2 separate regions of the Homo sapiens genome follow, and region 2 is linked to region 1. The links come from fine-mapping of genetic effects on gene expression. A gene starts in region 1. The other region holds a variant in brackets. All regions are shown on one strand. Distances are from middle to middle. Region 1 holds the start of EEF1A2 (eukaryotic translation elongation factor 1 alpha 2). Region 2 has its middle 5.4 kb from the start of KCNQ2.

Region 1 (2,891 bases):
AAGGCTCCAGCGCCCTCCAGCCCCAGCTCAACATGGCAGAGTTCCAGAGCCTTCTGCAGACCCTCCCAGGTCACCTCCCTCACCACAGGGCAAGTCCGGCAGCTCGATGGCCACCCCTCCCCCACCAAGCTCCCCCTAAGAGAGAGGCTGCCCCACCAGACCCTCTGAGGCCTGAGTGCCCCACAGCGGGGGTCCCTCCTGCCCTGGAGGAGGTCACCTGAGCCCCATGCCCTGGGGCTGGGAGATGCCAAGCCTGGCCACCACGGGAGTTGGGGGTTCCTTCTCAGGGGGCCAAGACCATAGCCTGGGGAGCTCACCTCAGCCGCCTCCTTCTCGAACTTCTCAATGGTCCTTTTGTCAATACCTCCGCATTTGTAGATGAGGTGGCCCGTGGTGGTGGACTTTCCGGAGTCCACGTGGCCGATGACCACGATGTTGATGTGGGTCTTCTCCTTGCCCATTTTGCTGGGAGTGTGAGGGGCTGGCGGGACCCGGGGTGCTCTGGCTCAGGGCGAGGGGGGCTGCAGTGATTCTGTGGGGCCAGTGGTGGTGGGGAGACCGGTGATGGGGAGCCCCAGGGGGAGACACCAGCAGAGACTGTCCTGGCACAGGCTGGACAGGCATCCCTGCCCACAAACCAAGCCCCCATGTTTGGTGGGGAGGGAAGGGCCCCCACCCACAGCTGGGCCTGGCCAGGGCAAGCAGAGGCTGTGCACTGCCCCCACCCCACACTTGAGCCCAAACAGCCCCATCTGCTGTAAATAACTGGGCGTTGGAGCCCGCGGGCTGCTCCTTGGGAAGGGGTTAGCCACCATTTGGAGAGACCACGCAGCGCCAGGCTGGGTACGTCCGTGACCAGCAGAGCCGGGTGATGAGTCACCTGCCCAGCGCTCCAGGGCCCTGTCCTGCACGCGCACTCCCCTCCCCGGCGGCAGGGCCAGGGACACGGCGCCCCACCCCCACCCGCTGCCACCGGGGAGAGATGGCCACTGCTCCCCACTCCCCTCCTCAGGCAGGGACGGCGCCATCTTCCCCTCATCCCTGCCCGGCAGGCTGGGCCAGAGCCCCGACGGAGATGCGCTGCCCAGATTAGGAACCCAGAATAGCTCTAGGCACCCCCCTCCCGGACTCTCACAGGGACAGACAGCGGCCGGGAGGTGGGGGTCCCTGTTCCAGCCTGAGGAAGGAGGACCCGGCCCTGCCGAGCCCAGCAAGTGCCAGGTGGAGATGCCCTCGGCCCCGTGGGGGTATAGGGGGCACCCTCCCTCCCCCCCTCCCTGTGACTCAGGACCCTGGGTCACAGCCCTGTCCCATCACAGAGGTCAGTGGAGAAACCCACGCTGCTCCTCGCGGACAGGTGGCTGGGGGAGGGAAAGAGGACAGAAGCCACCCTGGGGTGGGAACACGGGTGGGGGTGGGGAGGCCAGGGCCCCCAGATCTCACCACCTCCCTCAGCGTCCTCTGGCCCAGCGCCCCGAAGCCCGACCCCCATCAGCCCCCGGCCCGCAGGGTCCCCGCGGCCCCAAGGTCACGGCTACGGGGCGATCGCCGCCCAGGACCCGGCCCCGCCGCCCCGCGCCGCCCCCCACCCCGGGCCCAGCCCGGCCGACGCGGGGACCCCCGGAAGCCGGACTCCGGGCGCGCGCGGGGGCGGGTGCGGGGCCCGGCCACCCTCTGCCCCCCAGGACCGGCCCCGGGGGTCCCTCTTCGGAAGACGGGGGCGGGGGCGGAGGCCCGGGGGCCGAGCGTCCTTACCCGGAGCCGAGGTCTCAGCCAGAGGGACTGGCGGCGCCGGCGCCGGCGGTTTTATCTCCGGGAGGGGGTCCACCTATTGACGGTGGCGGCGCAGTGCACCGCGCCCTGCAGCACGCCAATGCGGAACCGCGCGGGAGGGGGCGGGGCGCGGACGCGCGCGGGCGGGCGCCACGGGGACGCGAGGCGATGCGGGAGGCGCGGGCTGCAAAGACGGACGCGGGAGGCGGGGGAGAAACGCGCCGCGGGCGGGGGCGGGGCGGGGGGCAGGGCAGGGAGGCGGCGGGAGGGAGGGACCGGGACGGAGACGGCGCGGGGAGAGCGCGGCGGGCCCGGGAGACGGGGCGAGAGCCGGCTCAGGGCAGGAACACGCTTGAGCCGCGAAAAGCGGTCCCCGGGGACAGGGCAGACGCCGAGGACCGGAGCCGGCAGGCGGGGGAGGGGAGCAGGTGGGCTGCAGCCTGGGAGACGAGCCTGGGTCTACCGGCCCCTCCCCGGCCCTGCTCATGGGGGACGCCCCAGAACCAACGAAGCCCGGCTCTGAGGGGCTCTCCCTAATGAGGCCCGGGGGTGCAGGCCTCAGGGTGGAAATCTGCTGGTTTCCAGTCCCTGTCCTCACGTGCCTGCCCTCCTGGGCGCACCATGACAGGCCCCGAGGATCCAGCGCAGAACCACCCTCCCCCTGAGAGGCTGGTCTCCCACGGTGCAGGGAACGCCGGAAGCCCGCTCCCAGACCCACTGACATCTTCCAGGGACCCTCCCCTCCGGGTGCGCCGACCTCCGGCTGCTGCTGGGAAACAGCGCCAGCCAAGGGCGAGTCAGATCCAGACAGACCCAGGCCCCCCCGCCCAGCGCCCCACCCCGCTGCACCTCAGCGCCTTGTAGCTGATGCTCATATGGGGTCAGGATGCCAAGCCAAAGACCGGGCCACGCTCTGTAGGAAGTGGGGAGTCCCTGAGGTCCTGGCACACGCGGGTAATGACCAACGTGGGTTGTGAGGAAGGGGATGTGGCAGCCATGTGTTGTGTGAAGACCAAGGTTAGGGGCTTTCTCCAGACCCCAAGATCCTGTCGTCTCACCCAGGTATTCAGGTCTTCCCTCCCACGCTGCCCCCCCACCCCCACGCACTCGGATCTTCC
Region 2 (2,891 bases), 21 kb before region 1:
TCTACTAAAAACACAAAAATTAGCCAGGCATGGTGGCAGGCACTTGTAATCCCAGCTACTCGGAAGGCTGAGGCAGGAGAATCACTCGAACCCGGGAGGTGGAGGCTGCAGTGAGCTGAAATCATGCCACTGCACTCCAGCCTGGGCGGCAAGAGCAAGACTCCGTCTCAAAAAAAAAACAAAACAGGCCGGGTACAGTGGCTCATGCCTGTAATCCCAGAACTTTGGGAGGCCGAGGCAGGTGGAACACCTGAGGTCGAGAGTTCGGGACCAGCCTGACCAACATGGAGAAACCCCGTCTCTACTAAAAATACAAAATTAGCCGGGCAGGGTGGCGCTCGCCTGTAATCCCAGCTACTCGGGAGGCTGGGAAAGGAGACTCACTTGAACCCGGGAGGTGGAGTTTACAGTGAACCGAGATTGCATGATTGCACTCCAGCCTGGGCAATGGTGCGAGACTCCATCTTAACAACAAAAAACAACAACAAAAAAAACAAACGAACAAAAACCCCAGGAAACCAAGCATGGGTAGTGACTTGAGAGGCATATGAGCTTCCTCTGGCCGCCCTCCTGTGTGGGGCCGTCAGCAGCGGGATCGGGGAGGCGGGGACTGCCACTGTGAGTTTGTGCAAGACGGCTACATGGTGCTGGTGGCCCCCGCGGGTTGTGGCCCCTGCTAGAACAGGCCAGATTTTATGCTCTTTTGACGCTGTGCTGTCATGGGTGGGATCTGTGCCCAGGTGCTCAGCTTCACCTGCGTTCTGAGGGCCTCGGCACCAGTGACAATAGCCCCTGCGGACACTGGAAAGCAGGGCCTCCCAGGCCACCACCCCGTGCCTCCCAGTGGAAATGGAGGGAGCTGCTTCCCCGTCACTGCGCCTTCAGAAAAACAGACGACCCCACAGAGGCCTGGAGGAACAAGATTTAATCTGGGGAAATGAGGAGATGAGGAGAGACAGGTTCTCAGTCATCTCACCTGGGCCCGTGCCTCCCGGTGGAAACGGAGGGAGCTGCTTCCCCGTCACTGCACCTTCAGAAAAACAGACGACCCCACAGAGGCCTGGAGGAGGAACAACATTTAATTTGGGGAAATGAGATGAGGAGAGACAGGTTCTCAGTCATCTCACCTGGGCCAGAGCTGCTGCGGGTTTAACCCTGTAATTTGGGCGACAGGAAGTGCCTCCCCAGACAGGGAGGCCCAGCCCCCCCAAAGGAATTTTACATTATTAGGAGGAGGAAAGGCTGTATTTATCCGCTTGCGGGGGAGCAGGGGAGTGAGGAAAAGATTTAAGATATGAAAGCATTGATTTTTTTTAACATCTTACACTAAAGTCAATAAAAATTTAATTTACAGTTTTTTCTAAAGGACCAAGGCTCTCAATAAGCTTCCCTAGCCCCTGGCAAGCCGGCTAATTGCATGAGGGAGTTGACTTGTACTTCCCAGCCACCAATAATACCGTCAATTGAGGAGCCC[G/A]TGGTCAGCTGTGACGGCTGGGGAGCTACGGTGGCTCCGGAGGCATCCGGAAAGGGCAGAAATCCACCTGTAGCTCTGGGACCTCGAGGGAACTCTCTGCTTGATGCTGTGCCGTGGCATCCCCAAACCCCATATGTTGTCATCTCTGGTCCACAGGTGTCACAGGTGGCCTCCCACACGCCCCCTCCTATGCCTTCAGGCAAATGGAGAAGCTGTGGCAATCGTCCCCGTTCTGTGGCAGATATATCGTGAGGAACGCAGGCGCCACGCTCACTCGTGGGAGAGACCAGGCCCCACCGTGGATCTACACATCCAGACTCCCTGGCACCTCGACGCTACCCAAATGCTTTCCTCATCAAGGCCTCCTCGCTCCTGAGACCTGGCCCTGCCACACGCTCCAAGACCACCGACCCCTCTGCCCCCGTCCTCCCTTCCTGGGCACACGGCCACCCCGACATCCCTGAGCAGGCAAGGAGCTCTTGCATTTGCTGTCTCCTCTGCTCACCAGGATGGCAGACACTGCTTCTTCTCAGGGAGGCCCTGGCGCGGGGTCCCCTCCCCACCTTCTCTGGAGCTGGTCCTCATCCCGATGGGAAACTGTTTTGCCTGGCGCTGCTGCCCCACTGCACAGAGCGCACAAGGTGTGGGGGGAGGGGTGGGCACAGACACTCACAGCCCCACCTAGCCCAAGGAAGGTGCATGTCAACCTGTCAGATGACAGATGGCCACTTTGACCTGGGGCTGGACGTCGCTGGAGCCCCCAGCCAGATGTGGCCTCAGTCACAGGCCTGGGGCTTGTGTGGCTCAGGGCTGCCGGGGAGACCCCAAGAGGACATGGGCAGCTGGAGCTCAGGACTAGCGGAGCGGCCAGACGTCCTGCCCATGCAGGCTGCATCTGTGCCCTGGCTGCCCACCCACCAACGTCCTGCCCACGCTCACCAGGGCCTTGCTTGGCCAGATGTCCAGTAGGCTTTGGGCGGGGCCATCCAGCCTTGGCAAGGCCCATGGACTGTCACAGCCCTCCCCACCCCACATCCAGGACAAGGTCATCTAGCGCCACACCAGGTGGATGGTTCAGAAAGGCTGGGTTCTCCAAGCTGCACACCAGAGGCTGCACAGAGCTGAAGTCCGGCGAGTCCCAAGGCTCCCAGGGCGGCCCGCTGCCCCACACCCTCCGGCAAACACGAAGGCGCCACCCTCGGCACCCAGCAGCATCTGCCTCAGCCCCTGCAGAGGGCGGCGCTGGTGTGGGCTGCAGAGAGTATGGCCCGCAGGCAGCCGCCATGGGCCTGCCCGAGCTGAGTGGCTTTCAGCAGACCAGGCGGCCACTCAGGCCTGCGTGGACTGGATGTGTCCCCAGAATCCACATGCTGAAACCCTCACTCCAGTGTGATGGTGTTAGGAGAGGGGGCCTTTG

Evidence for each region.
Region 2: its variant is fine-mapped to the expression of EEF1A2 in esophagus muscle (GTEx, PIP 0.95).

The regions. Positions count from the first base shown.
Region 1 is chr20:63,497,303-63,500,193 of GRCh38, forward strand. It overlaps EEF1A2 (eukaryotic translation elongation factor 1 alpha 2), which reads right to left and starts at 1,781. Exons shown (of 8, transcript NM_001958.5): 1 at 1,756-1,781; 2 at 318-532. The coding sequence starts at 461. LOC124904955 (a long non-coding RNA gene) reads left to right here and starts at 980. Exons shown (of 2, transcript XR_007067719.1): 1 at 980-1,321. RefSeq lists enhancers at 1-164, 790-1,585, 1,846-2,415.
Region 2 is chr20:63,476,578-63,479,468 of GRCh38, forward strand. No RefSeq gene overlaps it. Among named protein-coding and RNA genes, the nearest start is that of KCNQ2, 5.4 kb to the left of the region's middle. RefSeq lists enhancers at 1,408-2,220, 2,221-2,891. The variant G/A (reference allele first, on the strand shown) is at 1,475.